Regions from separate parts of the Homo sapiens genome. Here region 2 is linked to region 1. The links come from fine-mapping of genetic effects on gene expression. A gene starts in region 1. The other region holds a variant in brackets. All regions are shown on one strand. Distances are between the middles of the regions.

Region 1 (9,816 bases):
GTGTAGTAATTACACGTTGCTCATTGAAGTTGAGTTACAAGCACAGGCTCTCCATGTATCATTCAACCACAATTACGATAATTACGAGAAGGTTGGCGAAAATGGCCTGGGAGGGAAACGGGTGGCAAATGACTTGGGAGGTGGTGGTTGGGCGGGGCCGTGGGATGAACTGTGCTCACGTGAACGACAGACTGCGACGTTCTTCAGTATTTTTCAAATGCTGAAAGAGAAAATTTCATGGACGCGCTTGGGGAAACCGTGTGATGTTTTTCTGGAGGAATCCAGCTACTCTGGGAGGAGCTGTTTCTTTAGTGAGTGGATTCAGGTGACTGGTCATCTTGGGCAGCACATTGGCCGTCAACACACATTTGAAAACCTCAAGACTGGGCCAAAAATAAAAGCAGTAAAGTCCACCGGGTTGTGCCAGTGGCTCAGAGAACTCGCAGCTGTGGGGAGCACGGCGGGAGGGGTTCCCCCCACCCAGCCCCATGAGGGCCCCAAGGCCTGATGACAGCCCGGTGGTGCCTTGAACAGGTGAGAATCAGCCCCCACCTGGGGACGTGGCGTTGAATCCTGACATCGTAAACCCTACGACGCCCTGGGAATCAAGAACAGATCCACTTTGCAGGTAACTGAGGCTCAGAAACAGACTCCAACCCCACCATGTCTGTGACCCAGAGCTGGGGGCTGACGTCCGAGCCAGGTCCGTCCACCACCCCACAGGGCCTGTAGGCACCCGGCATAGGAAAGGCCGAGAAAGGGGTCCAGTCCCACAGCCCTCCACCCCAGCAAATTCCCAGGTGCTGGGTCCCTGCAATGCACGCGATAAAAACTCCCGGGTCAAATACACAGAGGTGACCCTGCCGAGGTCACTCGATCCTAACAGTGGGTCGTGGTCCTCGGACATGGGAGGCCACGTCCTGCTTTCTGAGGCCTCAGACCCTGGTGAGGCACAGAAGGACTGTCCAGGGTGCACCCAGAATTTTTTTCACGGACGTCTGCCCAGGAGGCTTCTGAGAGCTGTTTCTCGAGGGAATGGATAGATGAGGAAAGAGAGAGGGTTGATGTAGACCTACGGTTGGGCCACAGGCCCCCCTGGCCCAGGTCCCTTAGCTGCCATCTCCCAGGATGCAGAAGCATCACTGCAGGGCCCGCCGGTAGAGGGAATGGGCAGGCGTGATCCTGGTGGGTTCTGGAGCTCTCCGATTCCACGGCTCAGCCTCAACGTTCCGACTCAGGTAGGAAGTATCAGAGCTTCACGCAAAGCTGCGAAGACCAGCTCCTTCCCACGAGTGGGTGGGTGGGATGATGCTGTGGCCCCTTCCTGGGTCTAACCCCGTGACATGCTCACTGGGAAGCAGTCCCTTCCCAGACATCCAGGGACAAACACACCCAAGGCCCTTTCCTTGCAGACCCTCCCAGAGGACCAGGGGGAGGGCCACACACCATGACCAGCTGGGATCCTTTTGGTTCATAATCGGCCTCTCGGGGTCTGGTGGTACAAGGGGCAGTGTACCAGTGGCTGGGAACACCCCCAGACAGCCTTGACCACCTCAGCCTGCATCCTCTAGGAGCCTGATACCTCCTGACACCAGGAACCCCGTCTACAGGGGACGTCTCACCTGTAGGTGGCCTCGCTGGGCCAGGACAGGGGTCAGCAGAGGTGCCCAGGAGCACCCAATGTCTCTGGGGCATGAACCTCCTCAAGGGAACAGCTTGGGGAACCACAGCCCCAGGGTGGAAAGGGCCAGGCTCCTTTCCCAAGACAGATTAGCTTCTTCCGAGAATACTGGCCAGCAAGCATTCTTACTCTAGTTTTGTTTTGTTTTAATTAGCAGACTTAATGTTTTAGGTTTACAGAAACACCAAGCAGATGGTAGAGGTCCCCCACACACCCTCTCCCTGACCCAGTTTCTCTTATGATTACCTTCTCTCATTAGGGTGTAGGCGTGTGACAGTCAAAGAACCAATATTGATCCGTTATTATTACAAATGTCTCAAGCCTCCATCAGGATTCACTCTTGTGCTGTATTTTCTACGGGTTTTGAAAAGTACACGTGGGTCCCATACTCACCATCGTACGATCCCAGTCTTAGGACAGCCCGCTGGGCACAGGAGGCTGGGCATCCTGCCAGGTGGCAGATCTCTGCCCCAGCCTAGGCTGGAACCAGCTGCCTGCTGACCAGAGGCGGCCTCTCCCCTTCGGTCTAGCAGCCACCAGGGGCTCTGAGACCCTGAGCAGGTCACGGCAGGTCCTGAGTTCCCCATGTCCGCATCTATAACTCAAGAGATCCCAGCACTGCCCTGCCTCTTCCGTGGTGTGATGATCTGGACCCTGATAGGCCATGTGGCCCTTCAAGGGTGGACCGGGCCTGGGGGGGCTGCTATCTTATGCTTGGTGGGCATGGAAAGCAGTTGCTGCGCACAGGTGTGAAGCCGCAGGTCCCTTTCCACAGCAGGTCCCTTTCCACAGCAGGTCCCTTTCCACTGGGCACCCTGGTACCTGCAGTGATGGGGGTGGGGGGAGGTGCACTCCTAGAGCAGACGGGGGTGGGTGGGGCAGTCTCCAAGCTCCGAAATGCACCTCCACCAGACCTTGAGCCTCAGGGTGATGTCACTTGATGTGCTGGGCAAGGTCCTGGCTCCAGGCTTTCGATGGGGTGGGTGCTCTGAACAGATCCTTACAATGAAACTACCTTCAGTGGTCACTGTCATCGCCTTCCAGTTCTTCAGACCCTCACCCTTGTCCCAGCTTTCCTGGGCTGGGGGCTGGGCTCCACCTGCCTTTGCCGGTGACTTCCGTCCCTGCAGACTCACAATTTTCAAAGCCCTCTCCCCGCCTCCTCTGGTAGTCACAACCCAGTTATTCAGACTTGCACAGGTCGTTCGCAAGTCCTCCTGGAAGGTATCTTGGCTGGAAAAGGGGACAAGGCCAAGCTTCCCCACCGCTGGATGCTGCGCTCGGCTCTGGAACTGACACCAGGCGTCTCGGGCAGGGCCACTGACCCGCAGCACACAGAAGCCAGCTTTGCCATCGCAGCGGGGACCGCCGGGCGGGCCAGCTCCGCCCTCTCCTGCCTGGGGGGCCCTCGGCACCCTCTGGCTCCCCTTCTCTGGCCTGAGTCTCTAGGGCCTCCCCAGTCCGGGCGGGGGTCTCCGCTGTCCCCCCCACTGGGTCAGGCACGTGGTGGCCGCGGTGACCACCTGGGGAAGGCGCCGACTCCGAGGAACACACTCGAGCAGGACGCTCCGCAGGTGATTCTGCCCCGCGGGCACGGGGTGGGGGCGGGATTTGGCCAAATCTGCAGAGAGTTTAGGTTGTCAAAGCTGGGGCGGGGGTTGCTACTGATACCCAGAGTGCGGGGGCCAGGGTGCTGCCAACATCCCACCATGCGCAGGACGTCCCCACCCCAAGAACCACCCGGCCCCGCGTATCCGGAGCGAGGAGTGGGCAGCGCTCGGCAGAGGCCCCGGCGCGGCGGCTGCACGTCCTCCGGGAGGAGGGAGGGAAGCCGGGCTCACCGCCGGGCCTCCCCCCCGGTCAGGAGGGAGCCGGGAACTCCCGAGGCACCAACTCTGCGGAACGCGGGGCGCCCGGATCGCCCCTGATCACCGCCCGCTGGCGAGGCGCGGGGGACCCAGAACCGGCGGGGCCGGGAGCCTCCTTTACCGCTCCGCGCCGGGGCTGCCCGCAGGATGGGGCGCAGGATGGGGCGCAGGATGCGGCCCCGGCACCGCCTCGCGGGGGTCTGCGGGGGGCGACCGCGGCTCGCGTCGGCCACTACTTGGGGGTCTCGGGTTTCCGCCCCGCCCTCGCCTTGCAACCCCTCCGGCCCCGGACTCCGCTTTCCAGGCCGGGCTCTTCCCTCCGGACCCCGCTCGCCGCCCGGCGCGGCCCCCTCCTCCTGCAGCGCCCCCCGCCCCGGCGCCCGCGCCCCCGATTCGCTGCTGACTCGGTGTCTGCGCGTCCGGCCGGGCGCCCCGGGAGGAGTTTCCGGCGCGGGGCGGGGTCGGGGGCGGGGTCGGGGGCGGGGCGGGGCGGCGGGTGGGCCCCACCCCCCAGCTGAGCCCGGCCGGGCGGACTCGGACTCGCCAACTTCAGAGGCTCGGCGGCGGCGGCGGGCGCGGAGCTCTGCGCGCGGCTCCAGCGGGCCGGGATGGGCGGGCGGCCGCGCGGAGGACGCGGGGGGCGCGCGACGTGACCACCCGGACTCGAAGCCCGCCCCGCCCCCGCCCGGCTCGCCGGCTCCGGGGTCTGCTCCGGGGGTCGCGGACGCGGGGCCGGGCGGCGGAGCCGGCGCCAGAGCATGCGGGGCGCGGCGCGGGCGGCCTGGGGGCGCGCGGGGCAGCCGTGGCCGCGACCCCCCGCCCCGGGCCCGCCCCCGCCGCCGCTCCCGCTGCTGCTCCTGCTCCTGGCCGGGCTGCTGGGCGGCGCGGGCGCGCAGTACTCCAGCGACCGGTGCAGCTGGAAGGGGAGGTGAGTGTGCGCGGCGCGACCCCGGCCCGGCCCCCTCCCCTCGCGTCCCCTCCCGTCCCGGGCCGGCCGAGCGTGCGGGGGCGCGGCCGGGGGCGGGCGCGGGGCAGGGGCTCCGGGGGCCGCTCTCCAGGCCCAGTCCGGTGCCCGCTGTCCCCCGCCCCCGGTTCTAGAACAAAAGAGCCCGCGGCGTCCCGGTTCCCGGCCCGGAGGACGCCCGGGGGAGGCGCGCCTGCAGCGCGGCCGGGTGGGTCCCGGCTCCGCGCGTGTCCGAGCCTCGGGGGCCGCCGGTCCCGCGACCCCATCCCGGGGGCAGGCGGGGGTCGGTCCTCGGGCCCTTCCTGGCAGGCTCCGGGAGTTGCGCGCCCCGAGGCCGCCCCGGGCCAGAGCGGGAAGGGACGGCCGCGGGAGGGAGCGGCGGTTTCGGGGATCGGGCGCGGACCGCAGCGGGGGCCACTTCCGTCTCGGGGAGCCGCGGGCGGGCACCTGTGAGCCGGGCCGAGTGTGGCTCCGGCCGGGCCCCCCGCCCCTGCCCCGTGAAGGTCAGGCCGCCCTTGGCCGCGGCGCGCGCTGCGCTGGGCGACCCCCCCCCCCCCCACCCGCGGTGGCGGCCGAGGACTTTTTTTTTTTTTTTTTTTTTTTGACTCAAGCGTGGCCGCCGAGAGCGGCGCCGACCGCGACTGCCCCTCGGGAGCCGCCGCCGCTCCCACGCGAAGCCCAGGGCGCCGAGGGCACCGCGGCCGAACCCGCCCTGCGCGAGCCTCGCAGTCGCCAGTTCCGGGGTTCGCAGATGCGCGGGGACCCGAGTGACGCGCGCCTCCCGGAGAGCCGTGGCCGGGCTGGCCCGGGCCTGGGTCCCGCTTCCCCTCGGCGCGGCCCCCGCCCCCGCCCCCGCCCCCGCCGCGGGCCGAGTCACGCGGTGATGTCGAGCGAAGCTGTTTTCCGAGAAGGTCGGGGCAGAGCCGGTGCGGGGCGGGTGGTGTCCGCGGGGCGGGCGCAGGTCTCCCCGCAGCCGCAGCCTCCGTTCCGGGTCCCCGCGAAGCCACAGTCGCCCCCCAGCGCCCCCGGCGGAGCCTCCCCGGGGGAAGGGGCGTGGCGCTGGGGGGCAGAGTCGCCCCGAGGGCCGTGGGCGGTGCCCGGCTGTCCCGGGAGCGGCCGCCTCCCTTCTCGGCCGAGCGGGGCCGCGGGCGGATGGAGGTCTGGGGGGGGTCGGCCGGGAACGCCGGCGCCGGGAGCCTCCGAGGCCGACGGCTCTTCTGGGGCCGCCCCTGCCCCCGCGGAGTGATTCAGCCCCGGCTCGCTGCCTCTGCCCGGCGGGTCGGTGCATCCCCGAACCGAGGCCCGGGGCGTTCCGCTCCAGCAGACCGAAGCCAGAAACGCCGCCCCCGCCACCCAGGCCGAGTGTGTCGAGAAGGGGCCGGCGCCCTTTTCAGGGTGTCAGGGGACTGTGTGCCCGGTAGGAGGGGGCGCCTCCCGGAGCCCGAAGGGAGGGCGCGGTAGGCAGCCGAGGGTGGCGGGGAGGCCACCCCTCCACCTCCAGGGGCGGGCGGCTCCTCCAGGCAGGTGACAGCAGCGGGACAGGAGTGCTTTGCCCTCCAGGACCTGCGCACCCTCCTGTCTACCTGGAGGCCCTCTTCGCCATCGTTGCCAGTCCTGGCCTCAGACTCCCCAGAGGGGACCCCCCCACACACACACACAGGGGACCCCCCCCAACACACACACACCTGCAGAGCCTGGCAGAGGGCAGCTGTGGGGGCTGCTGGAGCTGCGGGTGTGATCTGGAGGGGACACGGGGCCCGGCTGTGTTTCTGGGGCGTAAGTGAGACTTCCTTTTGTTGTGGTCACTGCCCCGTTGATCCACACACGTCACGAATCAGTGACAGAGACTCGCTGTGGAAACCGGAGTGCGCTGGCCTGCCTGCTACCCTCCGGTGTTTGTGACTTTTTACCAGCTGTCCTGACGAAGCACAGGGTGGAGCGAGCGCTGGTGTGCTGGGTGGATTCTCATCCCCCGATAGCTGGAAAGTTGCCCCTCATGACACTGGCCACTGCATCGACGGCCTCTGTTGCTGGGTGTTTCTTCTAAGCAGTTAAGTAGGAGATGATGAAACCTCCCTTCCGTGGGGGGAGGCGGGACCAGCGCCCCGTCTTTATCAGCCAGTGCTCATAAATGTGGACCATGAACTTTCCCACTTGCTGTCAGCCCGGGCATCGCAGGTGCGGTCACACCTGGTTCGTCTCTCCTGCAAGGTGGGGAAAGGAAAGTTAACCTGCCAGTGGGTTCGAAGCCCTTCCTGACTTTCATACAGGAGCCGGGCATTTTGTCCTGGTGACCCAGAGTTGTGGTGTGTGGGCTGGTGCCTCAACAACCCTCCAGTGCACCTGCGCCCCCCTTCAGTGAGTCCCTTTATCCACTTGGGATTTGCCCTCCTTTCCATGAAGGTGCCCCACAAGCATGTCCACCTGGGTGGTAACCCTTGCTGACTTTTAAAAGTGTATCTGTTCAGTCTGTTGATCCAACATCAGATCAGCCTTGTCAGTTTCCTAAAGTTGAACGAACCACGGTTTTGTCTGCACGCTTCAGTTTTATCACAGCAGAACTGTGTCACCTGCATCTCACGTGAAAATCACAAAATGCCCTCATCCATGACCATTAAAGATAGGTCACATTTTTGCAATGCCAGCAATTTTGCATAAACAGACTCTGTTTTCAGGTTTGCTGAGGTGCTGGATATTTGGAGGTGAGAGATTTGAGGCACTCGATTTTCTGGTAGGAACCAGCACAGACCATGAGTCTCGGACTTCGTGCCGAGGTCTGCTGGGTCCCAGGCTGAAGGATGCATCGTTTAACTTTTTTTGTCTACACGGGTCTTGCGCATCATGTGCTACTGATTTTAATGTGAAAATCCCTACGTCAGCGGGTCTGGTTGGAGTCCCGTTGGTCTGGATGTTTCGGGAGAATGTGAGAGGAGAGGGGAGCAGGCCCTGTGCTGGGTGCAGACCCGTCTGAGTGCGCTGAGAAGACGTCAGGTGAAGGCCGGGGTAGCCGGGTGTCTTCTTTCTTCTGTGTCCACCTTCATTTTGTCCTCTTCCTCTTTTTGCCCAGTGTCTTCTGAGTGGGTGGAGCCAGGCGTGCCCACCAGATGCGGGTAGCATGTGCTAGGCCAGGACGGCCCCCAGGCTCAAGTCGGCCTCCTCCTGGGCAGAGGTGGGTTGGCCGCCTGTCCCCAGCTGAGTTGTGGCTGTTCCCCTCGCCTGCTCAGATGAAGGCAGTGCTGTCAGAGGTGACCAGAGCCCGCTCCCTCGACCTTCAGGACTCCCCGAGAGGGAGGCAACGTGTCAGGACGGTGTATGTGGAGAGAGGGTCGAGGCTCGGTGCCTGAGCACGGGCAGGAGGACAGTGGCCTCGATGCCAGAGACGGGAGGGAGAGACGTGACGATGAGGCTGCATAAGAAGAGAGCTGACTGTAGCTGAGTGTATCAGCCACTCACCGAGTCCAGTTTCCACACAGCACGATCATCGTGCCCTTGCCCACACACGTGTTAGATGAGCTTGTGTGAGCTTTATGGGCTGTAATTTGTGAGTCTGTTCTGGGTGTGTGATCCTGGCAGCCGGCTAGGCCTGGCCACTCGTGACCTGGGGCCTTGTCGGGGTGGGGAGAGGGTGAGGAGGGGTGCACCCTCGACACCACCCTCTGATGTGGCCTGCAGCCTATGAAGAGTGAGGTTTGGGGGCCCAGAGTGTGAGTCACCAGCGGTAAATGCAAACCATATGTGATGCATTTTCTCTGCTGCAGAAAGGGTTTCTGGTGACTCGCTCAGGCCAGGGCTCTGGAAACAGCATTGCTTATTTCACATAAAAATCCTAAGAATGTGGGTGAACCTGTCTGAGATCTGCGTAATAAAACACTTAGTTGAAGTCACCGGGTTAGTTCCAGGCCCACTTGGTTATGACGTGGCTGTTAGCCACGAGCTGGCATTTACGTTAAAGTGTTGAGAAGCGTGAGGGTTTTGATGTTTCAGTTTCTTGAAAATATAACTGTTTCTACTCAGGACCTGCCTCTCCAAGAGTGTAGCACACTTCATTTTTTTCTGTTTAGCATGTATGAGGGTGAACTTAGCTTGCTACTCACACACTACTCACCCTGTGGAGGAAGTTCGCCTCGCTTTTGTGGTGAGTCTTGCTGTAATGATAGCTTATATTTACAAATACCGTCGGCAGTGCAGGGTCTTCAGGCTTGCAGAAAACGGTCAAGTCATTACTTTGAGAAATGTACAAACATCTATGCTTAATGAGGTGCTAAAAGACAAAACTCATCTACAACCTCCTTCCCCCCAAACTGCCAACACTCTGGATTAACTTAAAAGCTGCTCTCTGGGCAGGTTGCATCCCAGGGCTCCTCCTTCACACGTGGTGGGGCCCCACCTTCGCTTTACCTCTAGCGTCCCAGCCCTCGTGGTCATCTGGAACCAGGGTTGGTACACAGGGCCTGCTGGCATTCCTGTGATACTCCGTGATATTCTGGAGGAATCCATCCCTTCCCTGGGGCTCCATCCCACTGCCCCAGCACCTCCAGCCACCCTGATTCAGGGACATCGCAGAGATTGGTGTTTGACGCTACGGCAGCAGAGGCGCAGACTCTTGAGTGTTGGAGGGTGTCTGGAGGGCCTGGGGACAAGCACCGCCTGCACTCCCGGGAGCTCGGCCCCGCCCCACCATGGCTCTTGGTGCAGGTGCACTGGAAGGAACTGGGTGGGGCCCTTGTGCCGAAGGGCGGAGATGGCGCCGGCCTGCCTCACGGGCAGGGGTCCGTGTGGCACCTGTGGCCGGCAGCGGGTGGGTCCAGGAGCCGCCATCATTTGGAGCGGGTATCGTCCTCACTGACTCTCTGTGGGTGCGGGTGGGGTGTGTGACGGGAGCTCCGGGCCTGGCTGACAGTGTCTCTCCTCTGCAGCGGGCTGACGCACGAGGCACACAGGAAGGAGGTGGAGCAGGTGTATCTGCGCTGTGCGGCGGGTGCCGTGGAGTGGATGTACCCAACAGGTGCTCTCATCGTTAACCTGCGGCCCAACACCTTCTCGCCTGCCCGGCACCTGACCGTGTGCATCAGGTCCTTCACGGACTCCTCGGGGGCCAATATTTATTTGGAAAAAACTGGAGAACTGAGACTGCTGGTACCAGACGGGGACGGCAGGCCCGGCCGGGTGCAGTGTTTTGGCCTGGAGCAGGGCGGCCTGTTCGTGGAGGCCACGCCGCAGCAGGATATCGGCCGGAGGACCACAGGCTTCCAGTACGAGCTGGTTAGGAGGCACAGGGCGTCGGACCTGCACGAGCTGTCTGG
Region 2 (9,816 bases), 23 kb before region 1:
GGGTGCCCGGGAGTGAGGCCCTGACCCCACCGTGAGGTCCCCCAGGAGAAGGGGTGCCTGGGGAAAGACATGACCTCAGTAGCTCCGGGTACCCTCCACCTTTGCCCTCATTTCCGCCTCCGCATGCAGCCTTGGGAACTGCAGGGCTGGGAACCCGGAGAAGGCGGCCGGGCTCTGGGGGAGCTCAGAGGTGGCCTTCCCTGCCAGGAACACAGGCCAGGCCCCATCCCTATCTAACCTTATACTTGAGGAGCACAGAGCGGATATCTCCAGATTTGAGTCCTGAACGCGCGGCCGGGAACCCCAGCAGTTCTGAACTTGTCAAGGGAGCAGCCTGCCATGAGGGGTCTCCCAGGCGGCTGTGAGGCCTCTGGAAACTCCCTGCTTGGAGGAGGTTGACTGGGGACAGGGCCGTGGGGGTCAATAAAAAGGACTGCTGCCATTAGCCCTGGGCTGCCTGCACACAGAGATTAAGCCCGCTTGGGATTTGTTCCAGCTGATCTGAAGTAATGAGTAATTCACAATTAATGAGCATGGCTGTAAGCAGCCCTTCCTGGACAAATCCTTGGCTGTCCAAAACTAAGATTAAATGCAAATCATTCTGTCAATTAACCGTTACAACAAAGCCAAACTTCTGTTAAGCATCACTTCATAGATGGTTTTTTTTCCCTTAAATTGCCTCCTTGTTTGCAAAGCCTGTTTTACAAGTGGACTGCTTAAGTCACATGAGTGAAAATGCAGCCTTATTTACCGTTCAGCAAAAGCTATCTGAGAATTTGCTTCCAGGGACTTCATGTTCTCCAGAGGTTGGGGTACTAGGAATCATTTCATTGTAAAGGACTCAGTAAAAAGTAGCCCTGTAGCTGCCAGAATGCGCCGTAGGCTCATGATAAGGTAGGTGGTAAGGGCCAGAGGTCAGGGGTCACAGATGGCTTCTGCCCCTCCACAGCACATGGTGTCCAGAACTGGGCTTGCCTCTCACCTTCCTTCCTGTACATTTCCTGGTGCCAGAAATTTGCTTTTCACTGACTTCCCCCTAATTCAAATTTGATTAGAATCTCCTTTTTGGGAACATTCAAAGTGCCAAGGTGCGTTTCAGAAATGCAGGGTTGCAGAGGTGGGGTCCTGAAATCCAAGGGTGGTGGGGCCTGAGATCACTGCCCTCGCAGTAGGAAGATCCTCGGGGAGAGGTCAGCAGAGGGCCCGGACAGAAGGCACTGACACTGTACCCTGGAGAGAGACAGGAAGGAGGACCTGGGGCCTCAGAGCTGGCCGGGTGGAGATCGTGTGGTCTTCGTTCAGAGGGAAGTGAGGTGCTGATGAAAGATGATTGACGTCACGTGGGCACCAGCAGAGGAAGTGACACAAAACGCCCCACAGCTTTGGGTTCACTGAGTGGGCAGTTGTATTTATTTATTTTATTTTATTTTTGTAGAGATGGGGTCTTGCTGTTGCCCAGACTGGTCTCGAGCTCTTGGCCTCCCAAACTGCTGGGATTACAAGTGAGAGCCATTGCAGATAGCCAGTTTTCTTTATTTTTAATTGTTGTTTGTGCAAAAGGTTTTGGCGAATACTGGCTATATTCAGAGGACTCAGTACCAGTTGCCAGGGGCCTGGAGTAGGTGCTGTGGTCTCAATGTGTGTGTCCCCCCAAACCATATGTTGACACCTAACCCCCAAGGCGATGTGGTTAGGAGATGGAGCTTTAAGGAGGTGACTGGGCCGTGAGGGCTGTCCTCTCATGACGGACGAGTGCCCTTCAACGAGACTTGAAGGAGCCCTTCTGTCCCTTCCTCCACGTGAGGACACATAGAAGGTACCATCTCTGGGGAACAGGCTGTCACCAAACACCAAGTCTGCTGGCGCCTGGATCCTGGACTTCTCAGCCTCTACAACTGTGTGCAATACATTTCTACTGTTTATCAATCACATGGTCAGAGGTATTTTGTTACAGCAGCACAAATGGACCAAGACATCAGGTCTCCAAATCGAAGAACTTCTCAGCAGCCTTCAGTGCTGGGTGGGGAGACAGAGGTTCCCTGCAGGTCCCCACAGACAGTGTTAGACTCAGTGCTGGGTGGGGAGACAGAGGTTCCCTGCAGGTCCGCACGGACGGTGTTAGACTCGGTGCTGGGTGGGGAGACAGAGGTTCCCTGCAGGTCCGCACGGACGGTGTTAGACTCGGTGCTGGGTGGGGAGACAGAGGTTCCCTGCAGGTCCGCACGGACGGTGTTAGACTCGGTGCTGGGTGGGGAGACAGAGGTTCCCTGCAGGTCCCCACGGACAGTGTTAGACTCGGTGCTGGGTGGGGAGGTTCCCAGCAGGTCCGCACGGACGGTGTTAGACTCGGTGCTGGGTGGGGAGGTTCCCTGCAGGTCCGCACGGACGGTGTTAGACTCGGTGCTGGGTGGGTTGACAGAGGTTCCCTGCAGGTCCGCACGGACGGTGTTAGACTGGGTGCTGGGTGGGGAGGTTCCCTGCAGGTCCGCACGGACGGTGTTAAACTCGGTGCTGGGTGGGGAGGTTCCCTGCAGGTCCGCACGGACGGTGTTAGACTCGGTGCTGGGTGGGGAGACAGGTTCCCTGCAGGTCCCCACAGACAGTGTTAGACTCGGTGCTGGGTGGGGAGGTTCCCTGCAGGTCCGCACGGACGGTGTTAGACTCGGTGCTGGGTGGGGAGACAGAGGTTCCCTGCAGGTCCCCACAGACAGTGTTAGACTCGGTGCTGGGTGGGGAGGTTCCCTGCAGGTCCGCACGGACGGTGTTAGACTCGGTGCTGGGTGGGGAGACAGAGGTTCCCTGCAGGTCCGCACGGACGGTGTTAGACTCAGTGCTGGGTGGGGAGACAGAGGTTCCCTGCAGGTCCGCACAGATGGTGTTAGACTCGGTGCTGGGTGGGGAGACAGAGGTTCCCTGCAGGTCCGCACGGACGGTGTTAGACTTGGGGGACACTGGGTCCCCAGTAAGAATGATTCTGATGTGAGTGCAGCTAGTGAGGGCTGAGTTCAAGCTTTAAAGACAAGAGCCCAACAGGTTCCTTCAACAGCCTGATCCCCTAGACCTTCGTGTGTCCAAGTCTCCAGAGGGGATGAACCTCAACAGACCTGGTTCGACCTCCCCTAGGCAGTGGGTGCTGCCTGGAGGGCAGGGTCGCTCGAGACTGTAGGAGACTCTGCACGTGGTGACCATAGCACCCCCATAATAAAGCAGCCCGTGAGGGCAGCCTGGCTGTTCGGCGATGTGTGCACTGAGGTCATCTCTCCTACTCTGTCTCAGCTATTTAAAGGCTGTGACTCACCATGTGGATTTAATGACTTATTAAGGAGTTGCAGCCCATGCTTTTTAAAAAAGTAATCTACAAAAAAATAAATGAAAAAGTCTTCAGGACAGTAGACTTAAGTGCGGATGTGGTCCCTCGAGTTCCATTTTTCAGCCGCCCACATTCCTGGGATTCAGACCTGTTGGGGATTGTAGGATTCTAGTTGCACAGGGAAACCCAGAGTCAATTCAGGAGGATAATTCTGAGCCAGGGGTGGGGGTACCGGCCTGGAGCTCCGGGGGGTACGGGCTGATCCTACGAAAGGAAAGTCAAGCCTGTGAATTGCAGAGCCTGGACAGAGAAGTTGAGGTGACGGCGTTCTGCAGATCCGTGAAATTCTATTACACGTCAGAGGGAAGGGACGGCCTCATGTGGCCCCTTGGAGGGACCAAGCCCTACCCAGCGCCTTGCCCAAGTCAGCACGCAGTCAGTGTTGGCTCCACCCACCTGCACCGTCAGGCCTTCTGGAAAGAGAAGGAGATCCGACTGACGGAGCGTCTCCAAACTTCCAAGCAAATATTACCTCGTTAAAGCCCAGTGCCACATGACTGACCTGGAGCCACAGCCTGCCCTCCTTCCCTGGGCCTACAGGAAGGGGGAGGTTCCTGTCACCAGAACCGTTCCGTCATCAGCCGGGCAGATGCTCGCTGTGGATTCTAGGTGAGCATCAAGTACTAGGGACCATGTTTGTCTTGGATTCCCCCGTCCCGCCTGAGCCCAGAACGCAGAGCCGGAGTCAGGGGCTTGCACATGGAGCGTTTCACGCCCAGGAGGCTGGGGCAGGGGCCAGGAAGGAGCGGGGAGGGGGCCAGGACCAGCGTGCTCTGCTGAGGGTCCACATCGAGGGCTGGACCCTGGACCTCCACAAGCCTGGAGAATTCTCCATCCGAGCAGTGAGGAGCCCCTGCTTGTTGTCAGCTGGAGCTGCGCCTCGGGGCTTCTGCTGTCCTGGCCCTGGGGTGGTGACTGCAGGATCCCACAGGTGTCCCGAGGCCTGAGGCTCTTCTCACTGCAGAGGCCACCCTGCAGGAATTGGAGTTAGGACCCGGAGGGTGGGACAGGCTGACTCAGAGGAGCCAGCTCTCAGGTTGGCAGGAGGAGGAGATGCACAATGAGACAGCAGCCTCACCTCCAGGGGACGGCCCCGCAAGCCGGAGCTGCCCTCCTGCACACTCAGCACTCAAGGTGGATTTGGAGGTGACCTAAGCCCACAGCTCTCCAAGTCTTGGGGAAATCTACAGTGGATGGCAGGTGCCTGCGGACGCCGAGTGGGTGCGGCCCCAGTTATGCTCAATGCAGGGGCACCTGTGTTGTTAGCAGCTGACGTGGACGGGAAAGGCCTGTGCTGAACAACGTTCCGTGTTCAATTAGACACTCTCCTCCTAAACAGGGGCGGAAGACGTCTCATGGGGGTTCCAAGCGTGATTTATGGAACTCACTCCCATGAGATAACATAACATTTTTCACACGTGGGAGAAAGGGCTGGGCTCGACTGGTGCCTGAGTGAATGCTGAGGATAAATGGGAAGCAGGACATTCCAGGGCACCTCTGCGTCTTGCATGAGACCTTGTGAGGGCCCTGTGGTGCCCCTGATGTCACTGTCGAAGGTGGAGCCGCCCCCGCTCTGCCTCGGCCTCCCTCAGATGTCCTCCCCAGCTGGCCCTGCAGCGCACGTGGAAGACAGCTGCCGAGAAGCAGGTGTGATGCCAGCCTGTGGGAGAAGCCACATCTGGACAGTGCGTGAAGCCAGTCCAGGGGCCACACCGGGACCTGCCCTCAGCTCTGCCACGTCCTGGCCAAGTGGCCTTGGCATGCCAGCCCTGGTGTCCACAGAGGCATCCATTCCTCATGGCAAAGTGGAGTCAAGTCGGC[T/C]GATGCAGGCGAGACACCTGGCCGGCCTGGGGAGCCGCACCAGCGCTCCCCACATTGCACTGCTGACTGAGGGGTGCTCGGTGCCGCGGCTTCACACGGTCAGTGCACAGACATGAACGCTGGACTGAGAAGCCGCCGCGTGCACCTGGCCCGCCAAGTTGCCAGGGAGGCAAGGGTGGTGTTGACGTGGATCACCGAAGGAGCTGGCAGCCCAGCCGTCCCCGTGACTGGATGGAATCCGCAAGCGTTCCTGGGCATCCACTCTGGGAAGGGCTCAGTGCCAGGGCCTAGGGTAGTTTTCAAATTGCAGGTTGTGGCCAGTATACCAGGGGTCATGGGGTCAGTACACTGGGCTCTGACTGGCAATTCCTAAAGATGAAGTGTGAGTCTGTCCCATATAGTAAGAGCTGCATTGATTTGTAAAGCTTGTGTTGGTTTTGCACGTTCTATGCCAGTGTGTGCTGGACCGTGATAGAAAGCGCATTTCTCGCTGTGGTGCCTGCCGTAGTCTGGAGGGAAAGATGAGTCCGTGGCTCTAATGTGGGGTGGTGGGTGTGGTCTACACAGGGAGAGCGAAGAGCCCACATGGGGCATGAGAGGGGCCGGAGAGGCTGGGGCAGGGGAACCCGGGCCAGGTCCTGAGAACAAATGGGGTTATTCAGCTCCTAAAGGTGCAGGACTCAGCCCAAAGTCCCTGGTGACCCAAAGAGGACCATGTGAGTCTGATGTGGCTGTGGAAGGCGGGGCTCACAGCAGGCTGCCGGGGCACCATTAATGGGGGAGGGTCCTGTCCCCAGCGCATACGTAGACGGCCCTTCAGAACCTGCTCAGTGGTCAGTGCGGCCGTGCAGCTGCACCCCGGCCTGGTCACCTGTGCTGTGCCCAGCAAGGAAGATGCCCCCGCTCAGCCCGTCCATGCACCCTCCAGAGGCTGTCAGCTGCCTGAGACCCACACTGGCTCTTGCAGGCTAGAGGAGAGTTCAATGGCCATTCGGGCCCTGTCGCCATGGAAACACCAACTTTGGGTACCAAAAGCCTGAATGTACAAATTCATGGAGTATGACCTGCCTGGTGCCAGTGGGTCTTTGCATTTTTCTGGGGTGCCAGTGGGTCTTTGCGTTTTTCTGGGGTGCCAGTGGGTCTTTGCGTTTTTCTGATGCCCTCTGAACTCTTAGGTCCCGGTTCTGGCGGATTTGGCCCAGGCACCCCCAGCCCCCAGGTAGGAGGCACAACCCTGCTCCCAATGCCCAACACCTGCCCCCAATGCCCAACACCTGCCCCACACACCTGAGGTACCTCCTGGGCGTCCCACACCAGGACAGGCCTGGAGACTTCCAGCCACTGCCACCTGGCACACCCAGCACCTGCAGATCCACCACCTTAAAACCCACCTCTACTGCCCCATGTCACGGTCCCTGCGGGGCCAGGCCTGCCTGGCACGTCCACCCCGGGTCTCCCTGCCTCACCCTCTTGCGCATCCACAGTGAACAGGGGCATCTTTCCAAAATGCAGATCTGGCCGGGTGCGGCGGCTCATGCCTGTAATCCCAGCACTTTGGGAGGCCGAAGCAGGTGGATCACATGAAGTCAGAAGTTGGAGACTAGCCTGGCCAACATGGTAAAACCCCGTCTCTACTAAATGTATAAAAACTAGTGGGATGTGGTGGCGGCTAACTGTAATCCCAGCTTCTTGGGAGGCCGAGGCACAAGAATTGCTTGAACCCGAGAGGCAGAAGTTGCAGCAAGCTGAGATCTCACCACTGCACTCTAGCCTGGGCAACATAGCAAGACTCTGTCTCAAAAACAAACAAACAAAATGCAGATTGAATCCAGGCTCACCTGGTGACAGCTGTCCATATCCCCACCCTTTCAGGACAGCATGGCTGCCCTTTTGTGGGTGGTTCCAGCTACCCAGACCCTGTCCTTCTCAACACCCCCTCATTAAGGTAGGACCCTAAAGTGAATTCCTCCTTGTCCTTCAAAGCCAGCCTCCAGCATCGCCTCCTCTGGGATCTTCTCTGACTTCCCAGTCGGTTTCAGAAGCCTCTGATGACCCCATGCGGAGAAGACTGCTCCCCTCACTGCTGGCACACGGCAGATGCTCAGTAAGTATCGTTCAATGACTGACTAAATGTCTCATAATATCCTTCATAAACAAGGGCCTGGTGTGGATTCATAAATGGGTCTCTCAAAGTTTAATTGGTGAGACTCTGTTGTATCAGACAATGAAGGGTTAAAAGATAATATTCAAAAAAGTAAAATCATGACACACAAATCTAGAATGAACACACATTGATAAGGTTTGGATCTGTGTCCTCACCCAAACCTCATGTCGAACTGGGATCCCCCGTGTCAGAGGCGGCCGCGTGGGAGGTGACCGGATCGCGGGTGGACCCTTCATGAAGGGTTCAGCACCATCCCCTTGGTGCTGTCCTGGGACAGAGTTCTCTTGCGATCTGGTTGTTTAAACGTGTGTGGCCCCTTCCCCCTCTCTTTTCCTCCTCCTCCTGCCGTGGGAGACACTTGCTCCAGCTTCGCCTTCCGCCGCGAGTTGAAGCTCCCCGAGGCCTCCTCAGAAGCAGAAGCCACCACGCTTCCTGTACAGCCTGTGGGACCCGGAGCCAGTTCAACCTCTTTTCTTTATAAATTACCCAGACTCGGCCGGGCACGGTGGCTCACGCCTGTAATCCCAGCACTTTGTTGAGACCGAGGCAGGCAGATCACGAGGTCAGGAGATCGAGAACATCCTGGCTAACACGGTGAAACCCCGTCTCTACTAAAAATACAAAAAATTAGCCGGGCGTGGTGGCGGGCGCCTGTGGTCCCAGCTACTCGGGAGGCTGAGGCAGGAGAATGGTGTGAACCCGGGAGGCGGAGCTTGCAGTGAGCCGAGATCCCGCCACTGCACTCCAGCCTGGGCAGCAGAGCGAGACTCCATCTCAACAAATAATAATAATAAAATAAATAAATAAATAAATAAATAAATAAATAAATTGCCCAGACTCAGGTATTTCTGGATAGCGATGCGAGAATGGACTAATACACGTGTTAAGTCAAAAGTTTTATTTAACTTATTAATTCATGAGGGAAGCAGGAAGATATTAAAACTGGTTCAAAGGAAAATCCACAGGTTTAGGCAATCGAGCTGAAACGAACTTGCTAATACAGTCGTCCCCCGTATCCCCGACTTGAGTTGTCTGTGCTCAACTGCAGAAAACAGGTGAGTACAGCACAGTAAGATACCTTGAGAGAGAGGGAGATCCCACATTCACATAATTTTTATCACCATAGATTGTTGTAATTGCTGTTTATGATTGGTGATTGTTAATCTCTTACTGTGCCTATTTTACAAATTAAACTTTATCAAAGGGCTGTACATATAGGACAAAACATAGTCTATACAGGGTTCAACACTATCCAAGGTTTCAGGCATCCACTGGAGTGCTTGGAACGCATCCCCCAAGTCATCACCAAACCAGCCAATATCCACAGGGCCTGAAACCTCCCCTTTGGATTCTCTCTTCCATTGGTGGAAATCAGCCGTGTCTCCACTGACAAGTGTCCTTGCACCTCCGTGGGCTCCTGTGTGTGGCCGTCACCTTTCTGGTGTGCAGGGAACTGTCTCACAGCTCCATTAAAGATGAGGAAGGCGCCGATCACTGCAGCACCAGAGAACCCAGGGGTTCGCCTGGCCCCCCACTGAAAGGATGCCCAGAAACCTCCTCACCCATTTTAATGTCTTTCCCACATTTTCCTGATGAAGACTCAGCACAGACGCTCACAGCATCATTGGGCACAACTGGGTCTGGTGGCAGAAGGCCCGGAGGGTGCACGGCCCCCTCCTGAGGCAGGTGTGCGGTGCTGGGGAAAGGCGGAGCACGAGGGCTGAGCTCTGGCCGTGGGACCCACCCAGCAGTCTCCCCTCTGGGGCAGGGAGGGGCAGTGAGAGCGTGGGGAAGGCAGGGAGGGGAGCCCAACGGTCCACCCTGGGAGGAGCCATCAGCCCCCATCCCTCAACCAGGCGTCTCCACAGGCCACCAGGGCCATAAAGGCAGGTAGGACCCACACCTGCTGATGGGGAACTGCACCAGCAGCCACCCAGAAACCCGAGGCCTGTACGGTATTCCGTGCCGGGGAGGGCCAGCACTCAGCCCCCAGCTGCTTCCCTGAACCCCACGGTCTGAGGCTGTGTCAAAGCTTCCCCAGTGTTTCCTGGAAGACGCTCCTCCATGGATCCCTTGCTCCTGCCCATCTTGCTGGGCCAGGAATGCAAACTCCAATGGCTGCCCCGGGGTCGTTTCTCAGGGGGGTGTGCACGGGTGTGTGCACGGTGACCGATGCCTCTCTCTGGGACGAAGAGCTGGCACACTGTCTGCCTGCTGTACAGCAGCGGCTTCCCAGAGCTGAGGGCCTCTCCTGTGGGCAGTCCCCTGTGTGGGCAGCATCTGTCTGAGCCCCCGCACATCGCTGCTGGGGAAGGGGCTTGGGAGCCCACTCAAGGTGCTGACCCTCTGGTTCTGCTTTTGCTGTGAGTGATTAAGATCCTCTATCTCTGACCCCAGCAGTCTGGTGCTTCCTGCCAGCACCCACGAAACAGGCAGGCTTGTTAGCCCGAAAGTAAAATCT

The links. PIP is the estimated chance that this variant, and not a neighbour inherited with it, causes the effect.
Region 2: its variant is fine-mapped to the expression of METRNL in whole blood (TOPMed, PIP 0.98).

What each region holds. Positions count from the first base shown.
Region 1 is chr17:83,075,509-83,085,324 of GRCh38, forward strand. METRNL (meteorin like, glial cell differentiation regulator) reads left to right here and starts at 4,101. Exons shown (of 4, transcript NM_001004431.3): 1 at 4,101-4,477; 2 at 9,430-9,815. The coding sequence starts at 4,308. RefSeq lists silencers at 6,070-6,289, 6,285-6,579 and enhancers at 6,071-6,653, 7,247-7,806, 7,807-8,365, 9,265-9,792.
Region 2 is chr17:83,052,982-83,062,797 of GRCh38, forward strand. LOC124904094 reads left to right here. Exons shown (of 4, transcript XR_007065967.1): 2 at 6,367-6,410; 3 at 6,704-6,808; 4 at 7,175-8,184. Among named protein-coding and RNA genes, the nearest start is that of QTGAL, 6.1 kb to the left of the region's middle. The variant T/C (reference allele first, on the strand shown) is at 5,192.